Linked DNA regions of Homo sapiens. The protein of the gene in region 1 binds, or shares a complex with, the protein of each later gene. Each region holds a gene or a part of one and is shown on either strand. Other genes may lie near its edges. A codon is read from its position in the direction of its gene.

Region 1 (7,022 bases):
CCCTCTCTGTACTCCCCTTCCCTCGAGTTTGCACAAGAAACCTCAGGGTCTCAGGGATGGCTTCTTGTGGCGGCCCTAGTGGAGACAGCTGCATTCACAGCCTGTCCAGTGGCCCAGCATCCTAATTCTGCTTCCCACCAATCAGCACAGCTCCTGCCTGGGGCTGGGACACACTCCCGTCTCCTTTGTTCCTTCCCCTGACCCATGGTGTCCCTCCTCTGCATCCCTAACCGTGGCCCTCCTCTCCCTCTAATTCACCTCCTCACAACAAGCTGTCCCTAACTAAGGGGGCCCTGGCCAGACCCACCTGTTCCTCGAAGCCCTCCCTCCTGCCCTCACCCCTCTCCCGGCCCTCAGGGGCTCTCCTGGCACCATCCTTGCCGGGGTGAGAGTGGGGTCAGGTTTCTCAGCAACACAGCAGCCCCTGAAAGCTGGGAAGCAGCCCCCACCTCTGTGAGACACCCTCTCCATCCAGCCCCCTGTGGAGTCCAGGCCTTCACAAATGCTGGTTGAAAAGATAAATATTATTTATACCAGCCACCCGCCTCACAGCCGACACCCTCATCTTCTAGTGCCCCCCAAAGCCCTGCCCTGGCTGTCCAGTCCCTCTGGACATGGGCAGGTCAGTGGGGGCTGCGGCCGGTCCACACCTGGAGTGTAAGCAGCACGTTGTCCCAAGAGCCACTTGGGCAGGGGTCTTCTCCTGGCTTGCTTAGCTAGTGGTCCTGCCCCAGAGGCCATCCAGGGCTACAAGCTCTGCCCCAGAGGCTGGGACTGGGACACCCCTGGCTCTTGCTCACAGGCCACTCTGCCCCCTCCAGCCCCCATCTTCTCACAAAAGAGGAAAAGGAGCAGGAGGTGACTGGTATGGGGTGGTTAAGTGAGGGGAAGCTGGCCTGGCCTGCAGGGTACTAAATGTTCAGGGTGAAGGCAGCAAGGCAGGGCATTGCTGGTGGCAGTGCCACAGTGCCAGTAAGGTTCTGGAGGCCTGGGGGGGTGACTCTAGTGCTGTGGCCGCAAGTCTGATGATGACACCTGACTTCTGTCTCCAGGGTTCCTGAGTGAGGGCCCTTGGTTCCCAGTGGTGTCGGAAGGCATCACCGAGGTCCAGAGGCGTCATCGTGGTGAGTCAGAGGCTGTCACGAGTTGCCCATGATGCCCCAGGGCAGCAAATGGCCTCCCCACGGTTGCCGAGGGCAGCCCCAGGGCCCAGTGGGCTGGCCTTCTTGTGCTCTGGGAGAAGACAGCCTTGGAGGGACATGCGTGCTGCTGTAGGTGTCCAGCGCCCCATTTCAATTCATTCCCATGTCCCTTCTCCAGGGAGGATTGGGCAGGGAAGCCAGAGGCCCTGGGCCCGGCCCAGTCCTGTAGGTGACTTTCCACTCATGAGCTAGAGTCCTGCACGGCTGCAGGGGGAGAGCGGCCCCCCCAGGCTGTCAGTGCCAGCTGCTCCTGGGGGAGTGGGCATGAGACCTAACAGGTCACCTCCACAGGCAGGGTGGTCAGGGAGCCTGGCCGTCATCCCCCCAGCCACAGCTCTTTGGGGGCTGCTCCATGACCTGCCAGCTCAGACTGCTGTGGACTGCTTGATGCTGTGAAAGCTGACACGGGTTGGGGAGGTGGGGATGGACATGGCACGGGCCACTCGGGCACGGATCGAGTGCTTGTCCTGCCACCGGTGCCACCTCTTCCGGATGGCAGAACGGACCTGTGGGCACAGGGAGGAGCACGACATCTGAGCCTGTGGCTCAGGACCCCCTCCCTCCCCTGGGCCGCCACGAGCAGCTGTGCAGGTAAGCGGCTGTGCAGGTCAGCTGAGTACATGGAAGTCCTCAGTAGGGGATGACACTCACAGCCTTAACACGACTGCTTTGCATATTTGTCGGAACAGGTTTCTCAAATGTCCTGGGGAAGGGGCACCCTTTTCTAACCCACACGAAGGCACCATATGCCCTTTGCCATGAAGGCTCCCTGCCCTCAACCCACATGTATCCCCTGCCCAGGGCTCAGCCCTTCCTGGTTTTCACAGGCTCATCAAAGATACTGGAGCTCTGGCTTCCAGCCTGGTGCCAGCGGCCTCTGAGAGCAAAGGAGGGGGCTGTCACTGTGGGAGTGGACAGGTGGGAGGGGCCACCCTGGGGCTCCCAGCAGCATACCCCTAGGGACCTAGGAGCAGGGAGGGAGAGAGGCAGCCCTGGGAGGGGAGGAGAAGGCTCTAGACAATCGCCAGTCCCAACAGGCCTCACAGCCCTGAACCCCGCTGCAGGGCCCCCGGGTCCTCACCTCACTATTGAGGAAACAGTAGAACACAGACACAAAGAAGCCCTGGGGAGGAGAGAGGAGGCGTCAAAGGTCGGCTGCAGGTGTTGCCCACCCAGCCTCTGGGCTGCCCCTTGCTTCTCCCTGGCCTCCTGCCCTCCAGGCCTCTGCTTGGCAGAATCCCCACCCAAGGAGGTGCTGATGTGTCCCTCCAGGGCTGTACCTGGAAGGATTCCAGGAAGGAGTTGAAGTAGATGAAGACGACCCGGGAGACCTCATCCTCCCCGGGATTGACGAAGAACAGCATGTAGGTGATGCCCAGGAGGGGCAGCAGCACCAGAGTGGCTTTCACAGCCTTCCTGGGGTGGGGCGGGTGGGGAGGCTCGGAGTCACAGCCCACCCCAGGACGGGCTGCCCGCTGGCTCGGCAAAGAGGGCCAGGTCGGGGGAGGGAGTGGCAGGTCTCTGGCACGTGAGAGGCATGGGGAGCAGGGGTTTCATCAGGGGGAGGCCTGAGGAAGGTGGTACCCGGTTACCTGTACTGAATGGTCTCAGACGTGGTGGATGCCCGGAGCTTGGTCATGAGGATGCGGACGATGTTGAAAAGGAAGATGAAATTGATCTGCAATTTGAGCACACCAGCGGGCCGGAGTGTGCAAGAGGCTTGGGACCCAGGCTTCTCAGCTCTGGCCTCAGTGCCCCTGCTGTTCTCCCTCCTCCTCATGAGCACCTGCACATCTCTGACCCATGCCCCCTCTTTGGGTGGCCCCCACCTCTAGGTAGAGGAGTCCTTTCTGTCCACGGTTGGCACTGATTGCCCCTCCCCACTGGGCCCTGTCTCCTGCCCCTACCCAGGTTCTTACCAGCAGGACCAGGATCATGGGGCCCTGGTAGATGTAGTCGGTGTACACCCCAGGCCTTTTGCCAAACCAGCACCTAGAAGGCCACAGAGGAAAGGGGAGGAAGGGTCATCTGCGTCCACCTCGATGGCATGGGGAGGGACAGTGCTTGGCCAGGACAGGACTGGGGCTGGAGGCCAAGAGGTAGATGTCCCAATTCCAACCCTGGCAGAAGGTCAAGTCACTTGATCCCACTGCCATGCCTCAATTGTCCCATCTGCAGAACGGACAGCATCCTCTGTGATGAGATGCAAAGTTGGAAGCAAGCACCGGGGCAGGAGGTAGACAGTGGGAAAGACTGAGTGGCTGGGAACGGGCATGGGCCCAACACGAGGCTGCATCCTCGGCTCCTCCTCACAGTCCCCTGGCAGTGGCTGAGGCCCAGCATGCCCTCTGGGGGGCTGCTGGTGGGAGTGGCACCACACCTGTCACCCAGTGGGCACCCAGCAGTTCGCAATCTCAGCCTGAATCTGTCCAGTCACAGCCTGAACAACCTTGAGAGGAATACTTGCACAGGTTCTACCTGCTGCAGGAGGTAATTGCTTTGCATTTTCCCGAGTGTCCCTCCAGCAAGCTCCAGGGAGGCCTGGGGAGTGGGTGGGGACCAGACAAACTGGAAGCCCTTATGTCCTCGTGGGTATGAAGACCCCCAGTGGCTAGATCTCATAAGCCAGAAATTGAGATTTGTAAATGAAACCTTTGGATTTTTTAAAGGTTGGCTACAAAATCGAGTTTTCAGAAAACACCATGCTGGCCACACACAGCTTCTGAGGGCCGGGTCCAGTCCTCGGGCCTCTGGTCTGCAAGTTCGTTTCTGGTTTCTCACACCCAGATCCTCTCTGTTGCAGTGTTGAATTCTCACCACCAGGTGGAGCTTCAGAGCCGCTCAGACTCACTTTCTCCTTTAGCCCAAACAGTTTTTGTTTTGCTTTGTTTTTTGAGACTCATGGAGTCTCACTCTGTTGCCCAGGCTGGAGTGCAGTGGCACGATCTTGGCTCACTGCAACCTCTGCCTCCTGGGTTCAAGAGATTCTCCTGCCTCAGCCTTCCCGAGTAGCTGGACTACAGGTGCGCACCACCACACCCAGCTAATTTTTGTTTTTTTGTTTTTTTTTTAGTAGATACGGGGTTTCACCATGTTAGCCAGGCTGGTCTCAAACTCCTGACCTCAAGTGATCCGCCTGCCTCGGCTTCCCAAGGCCTCAGCCAGCCTGAGTCAGGAGGGAGTCAGGAGGGAGTCAACCACATAAACACGCAAGATAATCTTCCAGGCTCCTCTTTCAGCCCAATGAAGCCGTGCAGGCCCCCTCCCCTCCATGGGGGAGGAGAGGGCTTGTCACTGTGGTGGAGGCCACTTGGACGCCAGGTCCGTCAGTCAGATAGGTTCCCGGGAACACTTGTTTGGCAAAGAAGGTCCTGGGGCTCCCCTGCCATCCATGTCCACCTTTTCTGCCCCGCTCTCTCTCAGTGGTTCTCAATCTGAGCTGCACATTAGAATCACCTGGGCAGTTTTCAAGACTTCTGGGTGCCAGGCCACACCCCAGACCAATTGCGCCTGATTCTCTGAGGGTGAAGCCTGGGCATTGGTACTTTTCCAAGCATTCCAGGTGATTCTAATGTGAGCCAAAGTTGAGCTCCACTGCAGCAGAAATCAAGTTTCCAGGCACGATTGGAAACATCTGAGTCCATTTCATAAGGAACCAAAGAACTTCAGAGCTGGAAGAAGCCTCTGAGATCATCTAGGTCCACTTCTATTAAATTCATGGACTCTTTTATTAAGATGTCTTAATATTAATAGAACACATTTATATAGCATTTACTCTATGTGCCAGGAGCTATTGTAAATGCTTAATATAGATGGACTCATATCACCCCACAACAGCCCTTTGAGGCAGTAGCATGTCCATTTTACAGATGAGGAAACTGAGGCACACTGCAGTAATCTGTCCAAGGTCACACAGCTATTTGAACCTGGGCAGTCTGGCTCCAGGCTGCTTCCTGTGTAAGCTCAAGGCAGATAAAGGAGGCTGGGTCCTGCTTGTCCAGCCCCACCCAGGCAGAGCACAGGCAGGGACCCTCTGAATGAGTCCAGCCCCCAGATCTCTCCCTTTATAGATGCAGAAACCATGGTCCTGAGGGGAAAAAGCCAGCATGGCCAATGCCCGTGGGGAGTGTCACCAAGCTGGGCTGGGAGCCTAAACCTTGGGGTCAGGAAGGGAAAGGAGATGACTTACTTCTCATTGTCGTAGTACAGCTTCCCAATGGCCCAGGCCACAATGATGGGGAAGGGCACACCTGGGGGAGAGATGGGCTGTCACAGAGCCCTCAGCGGGGGCTGGAGGATGTGGGCCTGGAGAACCCCAGTGCAGCCCAGGCTCCAGGGGGTCTGGGGTTACTCAGGGTGGATCTCAAACTCACACACCTCCTTCAAGGTGCTTCTACTGCCGCCCACCCCCAAGAGGAGCAGAGGGCTATCGTGCACACCTTACCGCCCCAACCCGACCTCCATCCCTCAGGCCCCCCAGCCCGCTGGCCTGAGTCTGGAGGAGAGGGCAGCCCGGCGGCCGCCACTGCCCAGGCTGCGGAGGTGGCTGCCCAGCTCACCCCAGCCAATGCAGATGAACATCCATTTGCGCAGCCGGTCAGTGGAGTAGGTGAGCACGATGGCTGTGTGCAGGTAGCAGCCCTCGCCGAACATCCAGAAGAAGTTGGTCACATGGAAGTAGTTGTAGGCGGCTGTCACCAACCTGCACCAGCCCTGCCACCCCACCCCCAACCAGAGATGATGATGGGGGGCAGGGGAGGCACCAAACCCTGGGCCTGGGCCTCCCCAGGGCAGGACAGGGCATACCCTGGGATCCCACTCCTGTTCTGTGGGCTCCTCCTCTGCAGGGCAGGCGGGCCCCTCCTCTGACCTGGGTTTGGCCTGACCTGCTCCCCGCTCCCCTGCCAGGACGTACCACGTTGCTCTGGTGGACCTCGGGGCTCATGGTTAGCTGGACCACGAACCAGGTGGCGTTGCGCAGGATGAAGGCGGAGATGAGGTTCCAGTGGATGATGTTTCGCAGGCACCGGATGCTCCTGGTGCAGCAGGGCGGGTGGATGATGGGAGCGATAGGAGAGAGAGGATGAGGGGTAGGCCACCTCCATCACCCCAGCCCAGATGTGTAGATGAGGAAACTGAGGCACAGGGTGGGGCTGACTGGCCAAGTCACACAGGGAGGTGACAGCCAGGCTCTCCTAATGCCCCATGGAGCCCTTCCTGCCTGCAGCCCACCCAGACATAAGCCCCAGGCAGAGCCTGGCACTCCATGGAGCCTGTGCTCCATGGACCAGGGCAGCTGGATTCCTGGCGATGCCCGCTTCCCCTGGGGGTGCCTTCTACTCCCTGCCATTCCAGGATGGACAGTCACAGGGGTCAGCCCTGCTCCCAGCCTCCAGCCCTGATGCTCGGCTCCTGATCCCAACCATCCCCATCCCCGGCTCTGCCACCTGCATCCTTGGCGGTAGTGCTGGGGCCCAGGTACCTTCGAACCTGAAATGGGGCACCACTCCATGGAGCCCCCACCTCCAGGGCTCCATCTGCCTGGTCACCCCAATGGGTGCAGCCTGGCCTGGGTATGGGTGACATAAGACAAGTTTTGTCCCTCCCCACCATTCCAGCAGCTACTGGGGAGAGGGCAGAGCGGCTCTGCCAGAGGTTCCCAGAGACCTGAGACTCTCAGATAAGCCAGCCCCTGCCACCCTCTCCCAGCAACCCCCACCCCAACCTAGAGCTGCTCCTCTCACTTCTCCACCCTGCTTCTGCTCTAGGTCCTGGGGACAGGAGGAGGCAGTGCTGGGGTCTTCTCACCTGAGCCGCAGA
Region 2 (6,342 bases), on another chromosome or scaffold:
ATTTGTTTCCACAATGAAGCCCTGGGGTTCAGAGTACCAGAGCCTCAGTGGAGGTCAGCAGATGTCCCTCCCTCCTTGGAATGGCAGCCCATCCCAGGAGATGTCCTGACAACACCTGTGTACCCTGCATAGGGTCCCTGATGGGCCTGGGTGACATTATCTCACAGCAGCTGGTGGAGAGGCGGGGTCTGCAGGAACACCAGAGAGGCCGGACTCTGACCATGGTGTCCCTGGGCTGTGGCTTTGTGGTAAGTTCTCCCCTCAACAGGGCTTCAGTGGACTCAACAGTGGTCTTAGTTCTTTGCCATCCTTTGGCTTCCCTTGGACTCTCACACCTAAGCCAACCTGCCGCCCTCTTTTTTCTTAGTGTCCACTTCCCCTATTCTGATACTTGGGGCAGGGAGCTTAGTGAGGTAGAGGCCTAGGGCTCCCTCACTGCAGCCTGCTGCTATCTGGGGTTTACTTCCAGGGCCCTGTGGTAGGAGGCTGGTACAAGGTTTTGGATCGGTTCATCCCTGGCACCACCAAAGTGGATGCACTGAAGAAGATGTTGTTGGATCAGGTGAGCAGGAGAACAGAGTGGGGAGGGTGAGCTGTGTTGGGGGTAGGTGGGGATTTCAGCACTCATAGGACTTTAATTTCTCTTCCCTAGGGGGGCTTTGCCCCGTGTTTTCTAGGCTGCTTTCTCCCACTGGTAGGGGCACTTAATGGACTGTCAGCCCAGGACAACTGGGCCAAACTACAGCGGGTGAGCTGGGCAGGTGTGGAGAATGTCTCTGGCTGGCGGGCTGACAGCCCAGGGGAAGAAGACAGGTTTTACAGGGATAAAAAAGGGGGTAAGTGCAGGTAGGGCCCCAGGCCATGGAGGAGAGGAGCTGAGGGTTATGGTGCAGGAATGTGCTCTTTGAACCCAAGTCTGTGTGTGACATTCATACTGGGAAGTGGGAGCTGCTTGGAGGCGCAAGTGTTAATTTGTTCCTTCTCTGTCTCCCCAGGATTATCCTGATGCCCTTATCACCAACTACTATGTAAGAGCTGACACCTCAACTGCTTGTTCTCCTGCTTCCTTAAGTCTAGAACTGTCCTGGGATTGGGGGGTCCTCCTGACATGGGAAACCCTTCCGTTGGGATTACTCTTTCATTCCCAGGATGGGCACCATAAATAGGGAAGCCATCACCCAACTGTTCACCTTTTTCTTGTGTGCAGAAGTTGGGGTAGGGCCAGGCAAGACAGTGAGTCTGGGGTCAGGTGGTGGGGCAGCCATCCAACCTTTACATTTTCTCTTGCAGCTATGGCCTGCTGTGCAGTTAGCCAACTTCTACCTGGTCCCCCTTCATTACAGGTATGTTGCACCCCTACCCCACCCATCAAGGAAGACCCACGTTACCAACAGTTGGAGACAAAATGATTCTCATTTCAACCTTGAGCTACCTTAGACCCCCAAACGGAACACTGAGCCGTGATCAGAGTTCCTCAGATTCCCAAGCGTGTTATTCAGAATGTCTTGCCATTTCCGGAAACTGTCCCAGAGTGTCTGCCCACTGACCTTCTTCATCTCCCTAGGGAGGATCCTGCTTCTACCACCCTTGTCTCCATCCCACCTGAGCTCCGTCTTTGATGGCATATCTGGAGGGACAGTGGCTGGGGTGCTGCAGCCTAGGTTAGACAGAGAGGTAGACCAGAAGGCCAAGTAGGAGCCTGGTCAGACACTCACAATAAAGACAGTTGCTGAACTGCACCCAAAAAGATAGTGGCACTGAAGATGTGTGGTTCAAATGCTTGAAGGTGAAGGATCGTGGGAACAGGGGAAAATATGGAACGCTTCAGAGGGAACAGGGCCAAAATGTACATGAGTAGCATAGCTAAAACGAATACAGACTGGCTGGGCACGGTGGCTCACACCTGTAATTCTAGCACTTTGGGAGGCTGAGGCAAGAGGTTTGCTTGAGTCCAGGAGTTTCACACCAGCCTGGGCAATATAGTGAGACCTCATCTCTACAGAAAATACAAAAAATTAGCCAGTCACATGGTAACATGTGCCCGTAGTCCCAGCTACTCGGGAGGCTGAGGTGGGAGGATCACTTGAGCCTGTGAGATGGAGGTTGCTGTGAACTGAGATTGTGCCACTGCATTTCAGCCTGGTGACAGAGTGAGACGACCCTGTCTCCAAAAAAAAAAAAAAAAAAAAAAAAAAAAAAGGCTGGACACAGTGGCTCACGCCTGTAATCCCAACACTTTGGGAGGCTGAGGCAGGTGGATCACAAGGTCAGGAATTCGAGACCAGCCTGGCCAATATGTTGAAACCCTGTCTCTACTAAAAATACAAAAATTAGCTGGGTGTGGTGGCAGGTGCCTGTAGTCCCAGCTACTCGGGAGGCTGAGGGAGGAGAATCGCTTGAACCTGGGAGGCGGAGGTTGCAGTGAGCCAAGATCTTGCCACCGCACTCCAGCCTGGGCAACAGAGCGAGACTCCGTCTCAAAAAAAACCCGAAAAAACAAAAAAGGAATACAGACTTATGAACCAAATCCTAAACATTAGGGTCCTTTGCAACACTCTTTGAAACCAGAGCAAGGTTAATTTAAAACAGAAAGATGCTACTTTATATGATAGTCCGTACATTTCGGAAGATGAAATCTCAGCTGGTACAAGACAGATCAATGAACTTAGAAGGGGCCCAGATAGGGGCCCTTTCTGTGATTAACAGAGCTATGCATGGCAAGAGAGCCGCTGAATATTTAGCCTTTGAGGCTCTCAGCCAGGAAACAGAGCTCTGGGATGGCACTAGAATTTGAGCCAGTTGTCCTTTAGTGCAAGCCACACAGGCCCTTCATAGGGTGCTGAAAGGGCTGGGTGTCGTGGCTCACACCTGTAATCCCAGCACTTTGGGAGGCCGAGGTGGGTGGCTCACTTGAGGTCAGGAGTTCGAGACCAGCCTGGCCAACATGGTGAAACCCTGTCTCTCCTAAAAATACAAAAATTAGCCAGGTGTGGTGGAGCACACCTGTAGTCCCAGCTACTTGGGAGGCTGAGGCACGAGAATTGATTGAACCCGGGAGGCAGTGAGCCAAGATTGTGCTACTGCACTCCAGCCTGGGCAACAGAGGAGACTCCATCTCAAAAAAAAGGTGCTGAAGGAAAGAGACCTAAACCTGCCAATCCTTTGTCATGATCCCTCCTTTGCCATTTCATGCTCCCATCTCCAGCCCTTGCTCACTGCTTAGCCTTCCTCCTCTTCATTGTGTTATTCCTGTTCCTTAGGTTGGCCGTTGTCCAATGTGTTGCTGTTATCTGGAACTCCTACCTGTCCTGGAAGGCACATCGGCTCTAAGCCTGCCTCACTCCATCGTTTCCACCTTGCAGTGATGCAGCTTGACCCTGGAACGGTCAGACAACCTCCTCAAAGTGGGCATACCAGTTTCCACGGGGTTGGGTTGCCGGTCAGAGCTTAAGAGGACTAGCACCCTGCAATGCCCCTCTTCACTCTAAAATGTACACTGACTGCTTTAGAGCCCTTGATAATAGTCTTATTCCCACCACATACTAGGCACTCCATAAATATCTGTTGAACCTTCATGACCTTATCAACTTTACACCCATATCCCAGCAAATGCCACTCATCCCCACTCTTCATAGACACATTTGTTACTCTAACCCTGCCTAGGCTTCTTGTAGCTCCAGCTCTTTAGAGACTCCCGGAACCCTTTATATGGTGCCTCAGTAAATATGTTATTAAATATGTAATCCGGAATCTGCAGTGGTAATGAGTAAGTTTTTAAGCAGAAAACTATTGGGGAGTCATTTCTAGAGCTGGAAAGAAGCCAAGAGACCACCAAGCCCAATTTTTTTTTTTTTTTTTTTTTTTTTTTTTGAGACAGGGTCTTGCTCTGTCTCCCAGGCTGGAGTGCAGTGGCGCGATCTTGCCTCACTGCAGCTTCCGCCTCCTGGGTTCAAGCAGTTCTCCTGCCTCAGCCTCCTGAGTAGCTGGGACCACAGGCGCATACCGCCACGCCCGGCTAATTTTTGTATTTTTAGTAGAGATGGGGTTTCGCCATATTGGCCAGGCTGGTTTCAAACTACTGACCTCGTGATCCGCCTGCCTCGGCCTCCCAAAGTGTTGGGATTACAGGCGTGAGCCACCGCGCCTGGCCAAGCCCAGTCTTACAAATGAGGACCCTGAGGTTGGTAGGAGGGAGGTGACCTGTCCACACCAGGAGTTAGCAGAAACTTGAACCCATATTTCTTTGCTGCTCATGGGCAGAGTTACACTGCTGCTATGATTCCCAGGAGAGAAACTGAACTTTGCTAAACTACTTTGGCAAACTCAAAAGCAGATGGGCCAGCCATTTGTGGTCTGAAAGCACTCGGATGCTAGAGACCCTCTGTTACATGGTGCCTGTCAGACAGCCCTACAATTTGGATCCTGGGGCTGGAAAAAGATAAGAATGCTGGGAGACTTTGGTTGTGGCAGACTGCCTCTCAGTGGGTCCCACTGTGTTGGCTGAGTGCCAGCGGTGGACTCCTGATGCCTGCATTTGCAGAACTGATAGCTGCAGGGAGGCAGTGGGTTCCAGCGGCACAGCGTTCTCACATTTCTGGCCACTTCTAGAGGCAGAGGACGGGGTCAGCACCATGGACAGCCTCACGGTCCCGCCTCCCTTTCGTGTGTCAGAACACGCGACCCGGACTAGTCTGGTCTGGGGACGGCCCTAGTCATTGCTGGCTGTTCTAAGCGGGGCGAGGGACTCCCGTGGGTCCCAGAGCAGTCTTTACGCCCCAGCCGGCTTCTCGCTTTCCTGCGTCCAGTGCTGCTTCCAGCGCTAGCCCCAGGGGCACGAAGGCTGGTGTAGGGAGGTGCGCCCCTCCGGGGGCCCGCCAGCCGTCAGACTCGAAGCTGTGGCTGTCATTGCTTCTACAATCAGTGCATGTTCTTCGCTGACGTCAGTCGGAGCTGTCCTGGCACTATATAAGGCTGGCGACAGCCCCGGGACAGACCCTGTGTTCCCCAAGGCGTCTTCAGCCTGCCCCGAGGGACAGAGACTGGAGCTCAATCTTGGACCGTACAGACGCTCGCCGACAACCTGTGAGTGGCTCAGAGCGTCCGCCCAGCCTCCCCCTGCACCAGGACTCCGCTCAGCTCAGCCACCACGCTCCTCCGGGGAGGGAGGCTGGGTGGAAGGGATGGAACAGCACTGGCGCAGTGGCTGGGGCTGGAGGGCAGGCTGCGGGCATTGGGCGGCGGCCGGAGGGGTCGCCGGGCGAGCGCGGGGAGGGGAGCGGCGGCCTGCAGCTGTCCCAGGCGCACCTCACCCTGCGCTGCCCCTGTGTGTCCAGGGCCGGCGGCACCATGAGGCAGGCGGGACGCGCAGCGCTGCTGGCCGCGCTGCTGCTCCTGGTACAGCTGTGCCCTGGGAGCAGCCAGAGGAGCCCCGAGGCGGCCGGGGTCCAGGACCCGAGTCTGCGCTGGAGCCCCGGGGCACGGAACCAGGGTGGCGGGGCCCGCGCGCTCCTCTTGCTGCTGGCGGAGCGCTTCCCGCGCCGCGCGGGGCCCGGCCGATTGGGACTCGGGACGGCAGGCGAGCGGCCGCGGCGGGACAACCCTTCTCTGTCCATTGACCTCACCTTTCACCTGCTGCGGACCCTGCTGGAGCTGGCGCGGACGCAGAGCCAGCGGGAGCGCGCCGAGCAGAACCGCATCATATTCGACTCGGTGGGCAAGTGATGGCCCGGTTTGGGGCTGCGAAAACGTTGACCCCTTTCCCCCACCCCAGAGTTGGGATGCGGGGCAGAGCCACCAGGGCACTGTCTGCGTGACTATTTTTTAATAAAAGTACTGAAGACCCGTTGGCTTTTGTCGTAGAGGCAGGGCAGTCACAGCAGCGTGGGAACCCGTGGGAAGGTGGGGCCCCCGGGCCAGCGGGAGGGGAACAAAATGCTGTGGGGGGCTCCGAGACAGCGGCTTTCAGCCAGGTCAGCCAGGTGCATGTGGACCCCAAGGGTCCCCAAATCCCCAGGACCTCAGAGGTCCCGGCACCACCGCCCCGCCCTCGGCCCTCTTCCCAGGGCGCTGGGCTCACCAGTTCGCTCCTGGCATCACAGAGGTGCCCAATAGGGGTTCATTTGGCTTCCGCCCCCCAGACGGTCTCAGGTTCTGGGAAGGGCAGGATGGTGGGCGGGTCGCCTTCGAAGCCCAGGCTGCGGGGTTGGGCAGCGAAAGGAGATACGGGTCTGGGACGCTCGAGTTCTTTATTGAGATCCTCCCGGGGCCGGCGCCGATTTGGGTGATGCTGCGGTCTCTGCGCAGATCCTCCCCGACTCTAGCGCGGGCTCTCGAGCAGGGTCG

What was found. The genes of interacting proteins can lie anywhere in the genome.
Region 2: the proteins of CRHR1 (region 1) and UCN are in contact, whole or in part, in a cryo-EM structure (PDB 6PB0), measured with the Homo sapiens proteins. Residues at the interface, in NP_004373.2 of Homo sapiens: Leu106, Asn107, Glu109, Lys113, His117, Val120, Asn123, Trp169 (codon at 6,168), Val172 (codon at 6,159), Gln173 (codon at 6,156), Ser177 (codon at 6,144), Pro178 (codon at 6,141), His181 (codon at 6,132), Gln182 (codon at 6,129), Thr192 (codon at 5,897), Tyr195 (codon at 5,888), Asn196 (codon at 5,885), His199 (codon at 5,876), Phe203 (codon at 5,864), Phe260 (codon at 3,187), Gly261 (codon at 3,184), Lys262 (codon at 3,181), Pro264 (codon at 3,175), Tyr270 (codon at 3,157), Tyr272 (codon at 3,151), Gln273 (codon at 3,148), Met276 (codon at 3,139), Ile277 (codon at 3,136), Tyr327 (codon at 2,569), Phe330 (codon at 2,560); in NP_003344.1 of Homo sapiens: Asn84 (codon at 5,596), Pro85 (codon at 5,599), Ser86 (codon at 5,602), Leu87 (codon at 5,605), Ser88 (codon at 5,608), Ile89 (codon at 5,611), Asp90 (codon at 5,614), Leu91 (codon at 5,617), Thr92 (codon at 5,620), Phe93 (codon at 5,623), His94 (codon at 5,626), Leu95 (codon at 5,629), Leu96 (codon at 5,632), Arg97 (codon at 5,635), Leu99 (codon at 5,641), Leu100 (codon at 5,644), Glu101 (codon at 5,647), Leu102 (codon at 5,650), Ala103 (codon at 5,653), Arg104 (codon at 5,656), Thr105 (codon at 5,659), Gln106 (codon at 5,662), Gln108 (codon at 5,668), Arg109 (codon at 5,671).

What each region holds. Positions count from the first base shown.
Region 1 is NC_000017.11:45,829,310-45,836,331, reverse strand, and holds the end of CRHR1 (corticotropin-releasing factor receptor 1 isoform 2 precursor), read right to left. Parts: coding exon 7,011-7,022; intron 6,772-7,010; coding exon of another isoform or gene 6,685-6,771; intron 6,239-6,684; coding exon 6,118-6,238; intron 5,916-6,117; coding exon 5,762-5,915; intron 5,453-5,761; coding exon 5,392-5,452; intron 3,195-5,391; coding exon 3,122-3,194; intron 2,881-3,121; coding exon 2,795-2,880; intron 2,619-2,794; coding exon 2,483-2,618; intron 2,326-2,482; coding exon 2,284-2,325; intron 1,709-2,283; coding exon 1,568-1,708; coding exon of another isoform or gene 1,519-1,567; 3' UTR 504-1,518; downstream 1-503. Other genes in the region: LINC02210-CRHR1 (CRHR1-IT1-CRHR1 protein), read right to left, coding at 1,519-1,708, 2,284-2,325, 2,795-2,880, 3,122-3,194, 5,392-5,452, 5,762-5,915, 6,118-6,238, 7,011-7,022.
Region 2 is NC_000002.12:27,306,900-27,313,241, reverse strand, and holds UCN (urocortin preproprotein), read left to right. Parts: upstream 1-4,796; 5' UTR 4,797-5,082; intron 5,083-5,333; 5' UTR 5,334-5,346; coding exon 5,347-5,721; 3' UTR 5,722-5,842; downstream 5,843-6,342. Other genes in the region: mitochondrial inner membrane protein Mpv17, read left to right, coding at 133-248, 470-562, 653-748, 996-1,028, 1,291-1,343, 3,261-3,330. UniProt on the Homo sapiens protein: Acts in vitro to stimulate the secretion of adrenocorticotropic hormone (ACTH). Binds with high affinity to CRF receptor types 1, 2-alpha, and 2-beta. Plays a role in the establishment of normal hearing thresholds.